Linked DNA regions of Homo sapiens. The protein of the gene in region 1 interacts with the protein of each later gene in a pairwise test. Each region holds a gene or a part of one and is shown on either strand. Other genes may lie near its edges.

Region 1 (7,367 bases):
AATGACACAATGGAAAGAATGAATGCTCCAGGGCTGGCAGGGGCTGGGTAACCTTGGCAGTGCCATGAGGCAGGGGGTGTGTCTGCGGTGGTTTTGTGCTCTGACGTCTAAGCCCAAGGCCTGGCACATAATAAGCATTCGGTGAAGATTTGCTGGACTGGGGATGCTCACTCGCCTTTGGGAATATTGTGAGGCCATGTAAAAGGATGGTTTTGAACGCTGTGACTTCACCACATGAAACGCTTGGGATACAATGTGAAAATGCAAAATGAGCCTATAAAAGGCTGTGCTTACAAGCGAAATGTAAGTTTCTGGCTGCCTACTAACATGTAGCTACACAAACCTGGAAGTCTTCCTGCCAAACATGCAGAAGAGTCTTCGCATCAAAGAGATAGTGAGGCCTGGAGGGGGACGCCTGGAGTGCCTGCCGTTGGGGACACAGGCCTGGTCACAGCCCTGGGGGCGGAGGAAGCAGGGCTTCCCGAGAGGCAGACTGCACCCAGGTATCTGCGCTGGGGCAGCTTCTCATTGAGTGGATGCACCCCAGGAGGAGCAGGGACTAGAACTCCTTTATTCAGTGATTGAAACTGTGAGAGGCAAATCAATCTTGGGGCCCCCAAATCACTAAGTTAAAGGAAAAGTCAAGCAGGGAACTGCCTAGGGCAAAGCTGCCTCCCGTCCTACTCAAAGTCTTCCCTCTGCCCACTGAGATAAATGCACACCTGATTGCCTCCTTTGGAAAGGCTTATAAGAAACTCGAAAGAATGCAACCGTTTGTCTCTCACCTGTCTGAGACCTGGAAACACCCCTCCCTGCTGGAGTTGTCCCGCCTCTGGACGGAACCAATGTCCATCTTACATATAGTGATTGATGTCTCAAGTCTCCCTAACGTATACAGCCAGGCTGTGCCCCGACCACCATGTGTACATGTTATCAGGACCTCCTGAGGCTGTGTCATGGTTGTGCGTCTTCAACCTTGGCAATTAAACTTCCTAAATTAGCCTGGCGTGGTGGCTCACGCCTGTAATCCCAGCACTTTGGGAGGCCGAGGTGGGCGGATCACGAGATCAGGAGATCGAGACCATCCTGGCTAACACGGTGAAACCCCGTCTCTACTAAAAATACAAAAAATAATTAGCCGGGTGTGGTGGTGGGCACCTGTAGTCCCAGCTACTCGGGAGGCTGGGGCAGGAGAATGGCTTGAACCTGGGAGGCGGAGCTTGCAGTGAGCTGAGATCGCGCCACTGCACTCCAGCCTGGGCGACAGAGGGAGACTTCATTAAAAACAAACAACAAATAAACAAACAAAACTTCCTAAATTAACTGAGACCCATCTCAAATATTCAGGGTTCACAAACCTTTTCTCTAGGGTGGCCATGATGGGGCAGGAAGCCAGATGGGGAAAAAATACCCCAGGAGTGAAAGGGCGTGGAGAAGTGTGGGTTTGGGGTGAGCTGTTTTCCTTCTGCATTTCCAATAACCTGCATGACCTTAGGTGAGTTAATTTACCCAACTTGGGGGCTCATGGTTAAGGATGAAACTCACCTGTAGCAAAAGCATTAAAAAAAAAAAAAAGAAAAGAAAAAAGAAAGTCACCCTATTAGCTGACCCAGAAAGATTGTTCTAGGCCAGGCTCAGAATAGAGGAAAGGGCTGAAGGGAGACCACAAGGACTGGGGGACCTGTGCCAGAGGCACGGGGCAGGGCGTGGGGCTCAGGGGCCAGGTGTTACCCCCTCCTTAGAGGCTGGGGCACTATGGGGAGGCCCAGTTGGGGGCCATGTGACAGGGCGGTCTGCTGCTTGCACGGGACAGGGGGTCCTCGGGTGAGCCCAGCTCTGCTGCTCACCCCCACTCATGTGGGGTGGACAAGTCCTTTCCCTATCTGAGCCTCAGTTTCCCCCTCTGGAAGAAGAGGAAGACAGACCAGATGCACTCTGAAGCCCCTGTACCTCTGGCTCACGGGCTCACTGTGGGGGGCCTGTGAAATCCCCCAAATCACTAAGCTAAAGGGAAAAGTCAAGCTGAGAACTGCTGAGGGCCACCCTGCCTCCCATTCCATTCCAAGTCACCCCTCTGCTCCCTGAGATAGATGCGTATCTGATCGCCTCATTTGGAGAGGCTCATCAGAACCTCAAAAGAATGCAACTGTTTATCTCTCACCTACCTGCGACCTGGAAGCCCCCTCCCCACTTCCTGCCTTTGCTTCAAGCTGGCCCAGCTTTCCAGACCGAACCAATGTACTTCTTACAAATATTGATTGATGTCTCATGTCTCCCTAAAATGTATAAAACCAAGCTGTGCCGGATCACCTTGGGCACATGTCATTAGGACTTCCTGAGGCTGTCACGGGCGCGTCCTCAACCTTGGAAAAATAAACTTTCTAAATTAACTGAGACCTGTCTCAGATTTTCTGGGTTCACAGGCCCAACCTTCCGTGTCCCCCAAGGCGTTCCGGGGCGGCCTCACCTTCGCTTCTTCTGCATCCAGTCCTTGACCTCCAGGTCCGGGAGCCCCATCCACTGGCCTTGGCTCAGGATCACCATGGAGCCTTCGATGGACTGCAGGGAAAGGAACCCTTTGGTCCAGGCCTCTGCTCGCCTGAACCCATTTGGGGCTAGAGGGCATGGGAGGCCTTTGCTGGGGCTGGGTAGAGGGAGGAGGGAGAGGCAGGGTTGCGGGGTGGAGAATGAGGAAAGGGAGATGCCAGAGTCCCAGCCCCAAGTGGGGAGAACGAGGGAGAGAGCCCCCCACAAGCCATGCCCTCGCTGCCCCACTCACGTGCCAGGCTCCCCCGGGGAGGTTCCGGCCCAGAACCACGTGGGGGATGGCGTGCTCCTTCCGGTGCTTCCAGGTGAGGACCGACTTCATGTTTCCCCCAAAGTCTGTGTCTGGGCGTAGAAGGGCATCAAAGAGCAGGGCCACGGGGCTTTGGGATCGGCCTTCGAGGCCTTCGGACAGGTAGTCCAGGTCCTGGAGGGGGGCATAGGTCAGAGGGGCTGCTGGAGGAGGGCGGGGTCGTCTTCCCAGAGCCTGAGGCTGGGCAGGAACGTGGGGACTGGGGCCGGGCCATTTCCCTGGCACTGGAGGGTCTCAGAGAGATGCGCACCCTGGGGGTAGTTTGAAGCTCTCGTTTTGAGGTCTTTCTAGGAGGCCAAGGGCCCCAGAGTACAGACCAAATGCGCAAGCTTGGGTGAGACTGGAGCGATTGCCTGGTCCTACATCCCTACCCTAATATCAGTGTGGTCAGATCAGCTTGGGAGGTGCTGCCTCTTAACAGCAGATAACACAGACGGGCATATTAAAGGCTCTGACAAGTCCTGCAGCCATCATTTACCTGTTTAATTTTGCCAAACCCAGTGTGTCCCTGTTTTACTGGAGTGGGGACATTTTTCTCTCTATATTATACTGAGGAACTAGTATTCTATAGAGAGCACTTTGAAAAATGCTGATCTAGATCAAATGGTCAAGACCTATTTCCTCATCTCCAACTCAGGGGCGGGAAGGGAACAGGAGGATGTACACTGCCTGACGAGGGAGGTCGACAAGGGGAGGTCGTGGAGGAGCACAGTGGAAGACAAGGGGTACGGAGGGAGGATTTGCAAACCCTTGTGGGCAGGAGGTAGTGGGACTGAAATATCTGTGGTGGAGTTTCTCAACCTTGGCCGCACTGACATTTGAGCCAGATCATTCTTTGTAGCCAGAACAAAGTCATCCAAATGTCAGTGGGGCCAAGGTTGAGAAGCTCCACCACACATATTTCAGTCTCACCACCCTCGTTGTCCTGTGCAGTGCTGGATGTTTGCCAGCATCCCTGGCCTCCACCCTGCTAGATTTGGTAGTACCGTCACCCTGCCATGACAACCCAAATTGTCTCCAGACATTGCCAGGTGCCCCCCGAGGAGAAAAATCATCCCCTCCTTGAGAACAACCGGCCTAGGGCATAGTGAGCCCTAGATCGTGTGGCATTTGTGGGTCTCTGATTTCTCTTTCACGATCTCCGTGGCTGACTTTGTGGACTCTCGAATTCTTTGTTTAGTCTTGTTTCCAGCAAACACACACTTTTGTTTTTCCCTGGGAAAGCGGCGGTAGTTTTCCAAGGGCGGGTATGTACTACCCAGAGCTCTGGCCCCAGGCTGACCCACCTGGTCCAGGATGGAGACCCCCGGGGCCTCGGTGAGCTTCCTCTGCAGCAGGGGGTGTGGGTGGATGGCATCTGGCTTCGTGTAGGGTGTGTAGCCGGAGAGCAGGTAGGACAGGCAGATACCAGAGGGGCCGTTACCTGGGGAGAGAGGGTGGAGGTTAAAGGGGGTGGCCTTTTCAGGTGGGGGACACTACTGTGGAGGGCTTTGATCTAGATGCGGCGCATTCATTCATTTATCCTTCATTCATAAAAATAAATATTTATTAAGCCCTTAGCCTGTGCCAGACACTGTGCCTAATAATACTTTTAAAAAGAAGGAATGAACAACTGCTGAGAGCTTACTCTGTGCCAGGAATTGTACTGAGAGCTTTCACAACAGCCTCACAACAGCTTTAGCGAGGTAAGTGCCACTCTTTTCCTCCTTTTATACTTGAGGAAATGGGCACAGAGAGGTTAAGTTACTTGCCTGTGGTCACACGGCCGGAAGGTAGACGAGCCGGGATTAAAACCCAGACAGAGGGAATATCTGACGACGCGACTGAGATTCTGAGATTGCTAAGAACTAGGTCAGATGGATGAGTGAATGTAGCACAGATTGCTACGTGGCCTGGGGGCGAACTTGAGTGGTGGGTGCTTGTGGGCGCTCAGGGGTGCTGAGCCGCCTGTTGGGTCTGCTGCTTGCACGTCTGAAGAACTGCGCTGCCATCTGTGGCGCTTCCTGGGCGATTCACCAGGCACAGCCCTGTGATAGCGCTTCTCTTTTTATCTGTCCTTTCCCCTCTTCTTATCTCGTCTGATTCGGAATATTACTCATATGCAGGATACCAGGAAGAACCATATGAAATCACAGGCACCCATCTGCTTTTGCCTTACAGAAATGACCATCTCACGTGGCTTAATCGGACGCCTGCATACTGGGGGGTCATCTGTCCCCATTTGTGCAGACAGAGGACAGGAATCATAAGCCGCTACTGTGTGTCCTCTCATGTGGGCACCTAGCACAGTGCTGGGCACAGGGTAGTCATGGGATCAGTGTGGGCTCAGGACCAGGCCTCCCTGCGCCACGCCGGGTCGCCTCCAGCTGATGGGTGTGTTCTAGACCCCTGGGTTCTCGGAAGTGTGAAAGGGAATGATAGCTTATAAACTGCTAAGCCTAGCACTGGCCACATAGTAAACGCTCAATGGCTTAATTTAAAGACCACTGTAAAGAGGCCAGGCCTGGGCCAGGCATGGTGGTTCACACCTATAATCCCAGCACTTTGGGAGGCTGAGGCAGGCAGATCACTTGAGGTCAGGAGTTCGAGACCAGCCTGGCCGACATGGCGAAACCCCATCTCTACTAAAAATACAAAAGTTAGCTGGGCATGGTGGCATGCACCTGTAATCCCAGCTACTTGGTAGGCTGAAGCAGGAGAATCGCTTGAGCCCGGGAGGGAGAGGTTGCAGTGAACCAAGATTGCACTACTGCACTCCAGCCTGGGCGACAGAGTGAGACTTTGTCTCAAATAAATAAATAAATAAATAAATAAATAAATAAAAAATAAACCCCAAAAACGAAAAAAGACACCAGGCCTGGACTTGCCCAGCTCCTGCCCTCAGACCTGGGGGGTACCCGGAAGGCTCAGCGGAGCCCCTCCCTGGCTGGGGCCTGACACTCACCCACAATGATGACCGGGAGGGGCTCTGAGCTGCTGGCGCCGAGGTGGTCCTTTCTGGAGGAGCTCATGGCTGGTGGGGGGCTTGGGGCTGGCAGCGGACCTGGAGTGGGGGAGAGGGGAAGGAAGAGTCCATTCGGGTGAGGCCTGGGTGTCCACACAGCCACTTCACCTCCCAGCTAGGGTGGCCTCCTGTGGCCCTCAGGGTCTGGTCCGGGGTCCCCATGAGACATATCTGACGGGACTCCCTTCTTGCTCTCACACAGCCTCTGCTCCAAACAGGCTGTTTGCCCCACCCCTCCCCAGTCATGCAGAATGTGCCCTCCCCTCCTCGGGCCTGGTTGCCCCAGGCAGCCACTGTCCCTCCGAGCCTCACTCTACTCTCCCATCTCACTGGGGCAGTAACAGTCCCCGAAACTCATTATCTGTCTTCCCGAGAGGCCATTCCTGCCCAACCCAGGAACCAGCCCTGCCAGACCCTTCTGTGGGCCACAGTCCTCGAGTCCCAGTGTGGCCTGGTGGACTCGTCATCCAGCCCTGGCACGTTGCTTCCTATCCCATTCCCGGGCCTCTCTGGGTCTCAGTTTCCTCATCTGTAAAATGGAAGCAATGAGTCCCTACCTCCTAGGGTGGTTGAGGGACACAGTAGGATCACAGACGGGAAGCACCTGCCTGGAGTGAATCTGCCACAGGGAATGGGCCAGCGCTGTGGCCTGCCCCAGGAGCTGGGATGGACTTGGGGAAATGGAAGCAGTGGCCAGGTTTGGGGACGTGCTGGTGAACCTGCCATCTCTGGGGCAGCCGCGCCCTCTGCTGGCCGCAGGCCCAAATCGCTCAAAGGGACCCAAGTGCTGGTCCTAGAGCTGCCGGTTCCCAGAGGAGCATCAGACCTACCTTCTTCCCCACACCAGCTAGCAGCGGACACCAGCCTCACCCGAGGGCCACATGCTGCCATCCTGAGGACCACAAGGCAACACCCTTGTGGGCACAGGGATGATGAGCATTTGGCACTTACTGTGTACCGGGTATTTGACATGCTTTTTCTCATATCCGCCTCACGCTGACCCTGTGCAGCCCTGGCCATATTAATGTCCCATTTCACAGATGTGTAAACGGGGCTCAGAGAGGTCGCACAAACTTCTCAGTGTCACACAGCTGGCTTTGAAACCCAGGGCTCACTGGTGCCAAGACCCTGCCAGTGCCACCACCCACACCACTCGGCCTGTCCCTCGAGATCCAGGGCCCATCCAGGTGTCACACTCAAGTGGGCGGGCACAGGGCTTGGACCACCCAGAGTGGCCAGGGGTGGGGGCCCAGGGCCACCTGCCTCCAGAATTCTTCCAGAGAAAGTGGGAATCTGGATTTCTATGTGAATGATCTGAGTTGAAGAAGTGGGCAATGAATGAACGCAGAGTTTTGGAAGATGCTTAAAAGGCCAACCAAACACAGCTGAGACCAGTGTGTGGCCTCTGATGTGTGCAGGGTGACAGAAACACCTTCGTCCACCTCCAGGCAGGTCCCGAGGAGAGGGATGAGAAACTGCCACACAGATGGGCCACTGAGAGGACCT
Region 2 (7,134 bases), on another chromosome or scaffold:
TTGCTTTCTCGCCCAGGCTGGAGTGCAATGGCACCATCTTGGCTCACTGCAACCTCCATCTCCCAGGTTCAAGCGATTCGCCTGCCTCAGCCTCCCAAGTAGCTGGGATTACAGGTGCCTGCCACCATACCTGGCTAATTTTTGTGTTTTTAGTAGAGATGGGGTTTCACCATGTCGGCCAGGTTGGTCCTGAACTCCTGACCTCAGGTGATCCACCCGCCCGGCCTCCCAAGGTGCTGTAATGACGTGTGAGCCACCACGCGGCCTTGCTGCCGGGTTTCTTGATGTCTTGCCCTGCACGTGTGCTCCTGAGGCAGCAGCCAACGGCTTGACTTCTCTGGCCACTGAGGCCACAACTGGGCACTCCCTGCTTTCTCTCCATCTCTCACATCCACGGTCCCCCAGCAGCCAGCAGGGCCTCCCCACGGGGAAATCGGCACACACGTCCATTGCATTTGGGTTTGGGGGGAGGTGTTGAGTTAGTTAGGGTCTTGCTCTTGCCCAGGGGGGAGGGCAGTGGTGCATCACTGCTCACTGCAGTCTCGACCTCCCGGGCTTCAGTGTGGCCTGTGGGTACTTAAGGAGGGTCTCGCAGCACTGGCGACCAGACCCGGGGTTCAGGGCCCCTCTCGGCGCACGACATCCCTCGCCCACTGCAGCCCGGATGACAGGGCAGAGAGTGAAGGGGAGCAAAGCAGTGTGCGCTCAAGGCAGGTGCATTTGTTTCTTTATTTAAAAAAATCATCTGGGGGCATGGTCTGAGGAGGACACCCCTCCCATGGCTTTGGGGAGGACGCAGGTTCCAGGAGTCACAGGGCAGAAACACGCGGGGTGGGTGGGGGCGTGGCCGGAGTGGGGAGGGGCTGTGCCCCCAGCACCTGGGGGTGGCTCCCACGGCACCAGGTGGGCTAGGGCAACAGTATGTACAGGCGAGCAGTGCTCCTGGACCCGGTCGGGGCCGGCTGGGGCCCCATTCTGCGGCAGGGGAGCTCTGGGGCACAGGGTCTGAGTCCCATCTTGGGCTGCAGGGACCGCGAGGGCCGTCCAGGGAGGCTGGACAGCGGGGGCCTTTATCTGGGCCCATCAGGTGGATGAGAACGGACACTGCAAACCGCTCACCACCTGGGCCAGGGCTAGGCCTATCCGGCAGGGGCCGTCCCCACACTGAATCCTGCGTGCGCAGAACTCAAGCCGGCATCCAGGCAGTGGGAACGCCCCGCAGGCTGGGCTTGGGTGGCCTCGGGCACGTGACAGGTGGGGCCCGTGTCCTGATAAACGGACAGGAACAAAAGGAACGCAAGGTCTGGGACCCACGGCTCTGGGAGCAGCGCCACCCAGGCTGGCTCCTAGCAGAGAAATGGGAATCGCAAATGCATTGCAATGTGCAGTGAAGAGACGCGAGGGACGCCCGCGGCGCACCGCCGGCAGACGACGTGGGCAGGCGCCCTGAGCTGCGGGTCCGTGGGCCCTGGCCCAGGCCGGCACAGCCCTGTCCCTAGTCCTGAGGGATTGTCTCCACAGGGCCTGGCCACTGGCCTGGCCACCTCCCCGGCTGCCCTGATCCAGCAGCCACACTCGTGGTGAACACAGGGCAACCCCGTCCTGATGCTGAGAAAGGTGGCATGGAGTGGACAGACGGCCTGGGGGACACTGGGCCTGGCACCGCGTGGTGGGGGGGCCCCAGCAGCAGATGATGGCCTGGGGCTGCGGCTATCCCCACGGAGGGAGGGCGGTGTCGGTGTCGGGCAGCCTAGGTGTAGAAGATGACCTCGGGGATCTGGCCGTCCTCCACGGATGTGCCATTGTTGTTCCCGGCCGCGTAGCAAAAGGTGAAGCAGGTCTTGGCGCCCGTGGTGGGCGACTCGTGTGTCACCTTGCGCAGGCCTTTGGTGCCGTAGTGGGAGTCTGGGCCCTGTAGGGAATAGGGGTACAGTGAGGTCAAGGACCACCAGGCTGGGATGCCCCAGGTGTGGACAGGGCAAGGCCCCGACTGGGCCAGGGTGGCTGCCTCTGGAGAGTGTGTGCTGTGCCCCGGTGGCTTCAGGATGGGCCAGAGACTCCCACGGAGGGACCCCTGTCCCCGGCGGCGCACCTTGAGCGTGGCACAGGCCGTGTAGTTGACGTTGGGCAGCACCTCCACCGGCTCCTTGAACATGACGCGGAAGGTGCTGGCTGAGCCGTCGCAGCTGAAGCCCGTGTCGTTCTGGCCCAAGACGGTGTTGCTATCGGTGTGAATAATCTGCGGGGAGGTGGGAAGTGGGAGGCTCAGGCCTGGGGAGGGCCAACGGGGACCCCTCGAGGCCCAGCCCACCTGCCCAGGGTGGGGGCAGCACAGGGACCAGGGCCGGGGGTTCAGCCAGGGTTCCATGGAGGTGGAGAGAGGACATGGGCCTGAGTGGGGCCTGGGGATGAGGCTTGGGGCTGGTACCTGGATGTTCACTTGGTAGTCGGTGGGCCCGTGGATGGATCCATACAGCCCAAATCCCACCACGAAGATGCGCTTGTTGACTGAGAACCTGCCGTGGCAGATGACAGGCAGCAGCGTGGATACCCAGGGATAGCCTAAGGTGAGCTGGGGCGAGCCCACCCCCATGCCCGGTCCCCTCCATCGTCCCTGAGTCCTCCACCCCCATGCCCGGCGGCCCCCCCGCCGTCTTCATCATCCCTGAGTTCTCCACCCCCATGCCCGGCCCCCCATCTCCGTCATCCCCGAGTCCTCCACCCCCATGTCCGGACCCCCCCGCCTGCACCCCAAGCCCCACCTGATGCGGTCACTGGTCCCGCTGTAGCCCCAGCGACTCTCCACCTGCTGGAAGCGGTTGATGCTGCACTCCTTCCCACGCAGGCAGCAGCGGGGCCGGTCAATGAACTCCACTCGTGGCTTGGGGTTGACGGTGAAGTGCAGGAAGAGGCTGACCACCTCGCGGTCCACCAGGATGCCCGACTGTGCGGGACCTGCAGCACAGGGAGGGTGTGGGGGAGGGCCGGGCTGCACCCCAGGATCCCGAGTGCCTGGGAGGACACGCTCCTTCCCCCTAAGATGTCTGCGTCGGACTTTCAAGGTGCAGGGACCTGGGCAGCCCCTCCCCGGGGGACTAGCCACCAGCCATGGCCCCTGCTGCCTGGGCTTTTAGGGAGAGGTCCCAGGGCACAGACCAGAGGCCGACAGATACGCTCACTCAGGGGCGATGCCTCAGGGTCTGACAGATGCACTCACTCAGGGGTGATGTCTCAGGGTCTGGCCCCACTGTAGGGACCACCCGTCACTTCACTGTGGGTGGGGGCGGGGGGCTCCACTGCCTGTTCTCTCAGGGCCATTGGCTGGGAGGGGTCACTGTGGCTCCCTGCTAGGCCTGTACCCCCCAGGCTGCAGCCCTGGCTTCTAGAAGCAGTCTGGGGGTTCCTCTCCACGGTGGGCCCTAGGCAGACACCTTCTCAAGCGCTTACACCCCCAGGGGTGATGGCTAGCGGACCCCAGGCAGACTCCAAGAGCCAGGCTCTTAATCCCGGTGCAGAGATGTCACAGGCAGAGGGACTGTGCATGGGATGTGAAGGGGCTCTGGGTAGGGAGGGGAGGCCAGGAGGGGCAGAATTGGGGGTCCACCATCCACCCCCAGGAGTGCCAGGACACAGCACCCTCTGCTCTAATGAGAGCAGCCCTGCCTGCCTGAGACCTAATCACTCATCAACCAAGGTGGGCTCAACTCCGCATCGCTCAGCTGCAAGCCAGCCCAGTGCAGACACAGTTTAATAACTGGTGAGAAACAGACCATTATGGGTTAAGTGAATCAGGAAGACTGAGTATCAAAACTCAATAAACAATGTTAACAATTTTTTTTTTTTTTGAGACGGAGTTTCGCTCTTGTCCCCCAGGCTAGAGTGCAGGACGGAGTTTCGCTCTTGTCCCCCAGGCTAGAGTGCAGTGGCGTAATCTCGGCTCACCGCAACATCCGTCTCCAGGGTTCAAGCAATTCTCCTGCCTCAGCCTCCAGCATAGCTGGGTTTACAGGCATGCGCCACCATGCCCAGCTAATCTTGTATTTTTAGTAGAGACGGGGTTTCACCCTGTTGGTCAGGCTGGTCTCAAACTCCTGACCTCAAGTGATTCCCCCCATCTTGGGCCTCCCAAAGTGCTGGGATTACAGGAGTGAGTGACCCAGCCTGGCCAACAATTGTATATATTTTTTTATTTTAAATGGAGTTTCACTCTTGTTGCCCAGGCTGGAGTGCAGTGGCGCGATCTCGGCTCATCACAACCTCCACCTCCTGGGTTCAAGTGATTCTCCTGCCTCAGCCTCCCGGGTAGCTGGGATTACAGGCATGAGCCACCACACCCAGCTGATCAACAGTTGTATTTTTAAGAAGTATGTATCTAGCCAGGCTCGGTGGCCCATGTCCATAATCCCAGCACTTTGTGAGGCCGAGATGGGAGGATGGCTGGAGCCCAGTTCATGACCAGCCCAGGTGACATAGCAAGACCCTGTCCCCACAAAAAAATACAAATATAAGCCTTGTGTGGTGGTGGCACCTGTGATCCCAGCTACTCCGGAGTCTGAAGCAGGAGGATCACTTGAGCCCAGGAGGTCGAGGCTGCAGTGAGCTGTGATTGTACCACCGCACTCAGCCTGGGCGACAGAGACCCTCTTGCTAAATCTGGCGACCTTCAGCTAAGCAAGAGCGGGGGCCGCGTGGACCTGGGGAAGGCCAGACGGCGAGTGTGCACCAGCCCCAGGGCTCTGTCCCAGCCCCTTCTGGAAAGTTCCAGGCCTGTTTTGCTCCAGAGCTGGATGGCGTCAGGCAGTGAGCAGCCACGAGGGCAGGAGGCATCGTTAGCGCTGCCCCTTCACGTCACCCTGGAACCCAGGCCCTGCAGCAGGGGACCCCAAGGCCCACTCGGGCGCATGACAGCCACCCCGGCCATGTCAGAGCCCTCCTGAGCTCGTCACAGACACTGGTACCTGCACCAGCAGGTAGCACAAGGGCGCGAGACGGGGACTCCCTTCCCTCCTGGGAAGATGCCACCAAAACAGCTGGACAGACACGAGAGGCGGGGTCTGGCAGTGTGCACGGTGGGGACAGAGCCGGGCCGGGGCTAACAGATGGCCCTGTGGACGCGTCCTCACAAGCCAGGTTTCTTCCTATCTGTATATGCCAGGCATCTGCCAGGCTTTCCGCAGTGAACTCGGGGGCACTATCCTCGGTACCCAGATGCCCACCTGTGTGCCACTCCCCTCCCAAACCAGCCCCTGAGCCCGAGCTCTGTTACCTGCAGCGAACTCCTCGATGGTCATGAGCGGGAAGCGAATGAGGCCCAGGGCCTTGCCCAGAACCTTCCGCCTGTTCTCTGGCGTCACCTGCAGCTGCTGCCGCTGACACTCGGCCTCGGACCAGCGGACAACGGCATTGAACAGCCGCACCTCACGGATGCCCAGTGTGTCGCGCTCCAGGACAGCCACCAGCGTGTCTGTGGGGTGGAGGAAGGGGCTGCGTGAACACGACACCCACATGCCCACCCTGCAGGAGGCAGTGAGACTAACGTGAGGACCAGCAGTTAAAGCCGGGCTGGCAACTATGGCCCGTGGCCCAAATCTGGCCCTGTGAGTGTGTTTATAAATAAAGCTTTATCAACACAAGACCACGCCCCTTCATTTTCCTCGGCTGTGGTTGTTTTTAAGCCACAAGGACAGACTTGAGTAGCTTTGACAAAAGCTGTTCAACAGCAAAGTCAAAGCCATGGACCATCGGAGGACGAGATGGTCACCATCAGCTGGGATGGTGGGCTCTGGCCTGTGGCCTCCTGGCCAAGGCCCCGGACTCCCGTGGGGCTGTGCTAGGACCCAAACTCCTGACCTGCTGCAAGTGGTGAGGCCCCAGCTCACCTGTGCAACTCCCCCAGGCCCAAAGCTCCCACTGTCAATCCCCGGACCCTCCCGCCGAGGCCCCGCTGGGATTCCCACACCTGGGCTCCTGGGCCCTTACCCAGGTCAATGTCGGTGAAGCCCTCCGCGGTGATGGCGTCTGCAGTGTTTTTGTCGATGTTCTCCAGGCACAGGCTGGCCAGCTGCGGTTCATCGAAGAGTCGCGCCTGGCAAGAGACATCGACGGGGGGCGCGGTGGGGACATCAGCACCCAGCCCTCGGCAGATCCCCAGTGCGGGGCCGGTTCAAATGCAGCCCTGACCACACGGGCCTTCCTGAGCGTGGCCAGGAGCCACCAGGGTCTCAGCCACCAGGCCGGCCCTGTTGTGGGCCCAGAGACTCCCCTGTGACCGCTGACTGGGGCGGGAGAGTTGGGGAGTTCCCTCTCAGGACCTCAGAGGCCAAGGAAGGAAGAAAAAGATGCTCAGGTCCCTGTCGGCAGGGCCTGCTGCTTTAGGCAAAAGGGGCGTTGCAGCTGCACTCGGGGGGCAGCAGGGCCCAGGACCCCGAGTGGCAGGCAGAGGTGAGGTGGCCGGGGCCGACCGGTGAAGCTTCCCGACCACAACATGCCCTTGGCCACTTGTGGTGGGAGGGGCCGTGTCCCCGGCAGCTCCATCCCAAGACAAACAGCAGACATGACTTCTGACAGTCAGGTGACAGAGCTGGAGGACGCCTGTGCTCTTAGGGAAACAGAGGCTTAGTTAGTGGAAGGTGCTGGAAGGGCCTATGCCAGCAGGGACCCGGGCAGGCCTTTCTGCGGGCATCCTCCCGAGGACACCTCTCAAGTGGGTTCGTAGTGGTTTTAGGGGCAGGGAGGCTGAGGCAGCCACAAGATGAAGCCCGGGGAGTGAGCTCCAGCCTCCTCTCAGCTCAGGCAGAGGCCTCTCCAGCAAGGCGACCAGATGACCCGGACAAGAAACCCCTCCCTGTGGGAGTCCGGGATGCCCTGCATCTGACCTGCCAGGATGGAGGGGGAGAAGGTTCTGGGTCCTTTCCAGGATGCCGGACCCCCAAAGCCCATTGGAGGACCCAGTGCCGCTGTCCCCTCTGGCCACCCTCCACCCCCGACCAGGAGCTCACGGCTCCCAAGCGGCCGTCCACCCGTACTGGCCCCACGTCCTCTCAGCCTCCCTGGCCTGCACGACCTCCCCAGCCCCCGCCCTTTGGGCTGCACAGAGCCCAACTGGGGTCCCCTGAGATCCCTGGCCCTGCTCTG

The links.
Region 2: the proteins of OSGIN1 (region 1) and BTBD2 interact in binary tests that used the Homo sapiens proteins (3 or more experiments, as listed by UniProt).

Annotation. Positions count from the first base shown.
Region 1 is NC_000016.10:83,956,173-83,963,539, reverse strand, and holds part of OSGIN1 (oxidative stress-induced growth inhibitor 1), read right to left. Parts: intron 5,901-7,367; 5' UTR 5,869-5,900; coding exon 5,802-5,868; intron 4,281-5,801; coding exon 4,144-4,280; intron 2,972-4,143; coding exon 2,780-2,971; intron 2,560-2,779; coding exon 2,468-2,559; intron 1-2,467. UniProt on the Homo sapiens protein: Monooxygenase catalytic activity. Involved in regulation of cytokinesis; promotes RHOA activity, probably acting locally at the midbody in late cytokinesis.
Region 2 is NC_000019.10:1,984,738-1,991,871, forward strand, and holds the end of BTBD2 (BTB/POZ domain-containing protein 2), read right to left. Parts: intron 6,086-7,134; coding exon 5,980-6,085; intron 5,634-5,979; exon of another isoform or gene 5,465-5,633; coding exon 5,267-5,464; exon of another isoform or gene 4,221-5,266; intron 3,758-4,220; exon of another isoform or gene 2,956-3,757; coding exon 2,763-2,955; intron 2,517-2,762; coding exon 2,429-2,516; intron 2,240-2,428; coding exon 2,093-2,239; intron 1,913-2,092; coding exon 1,751-1,912; 3' UTR 711-1,750; downstream 1-710.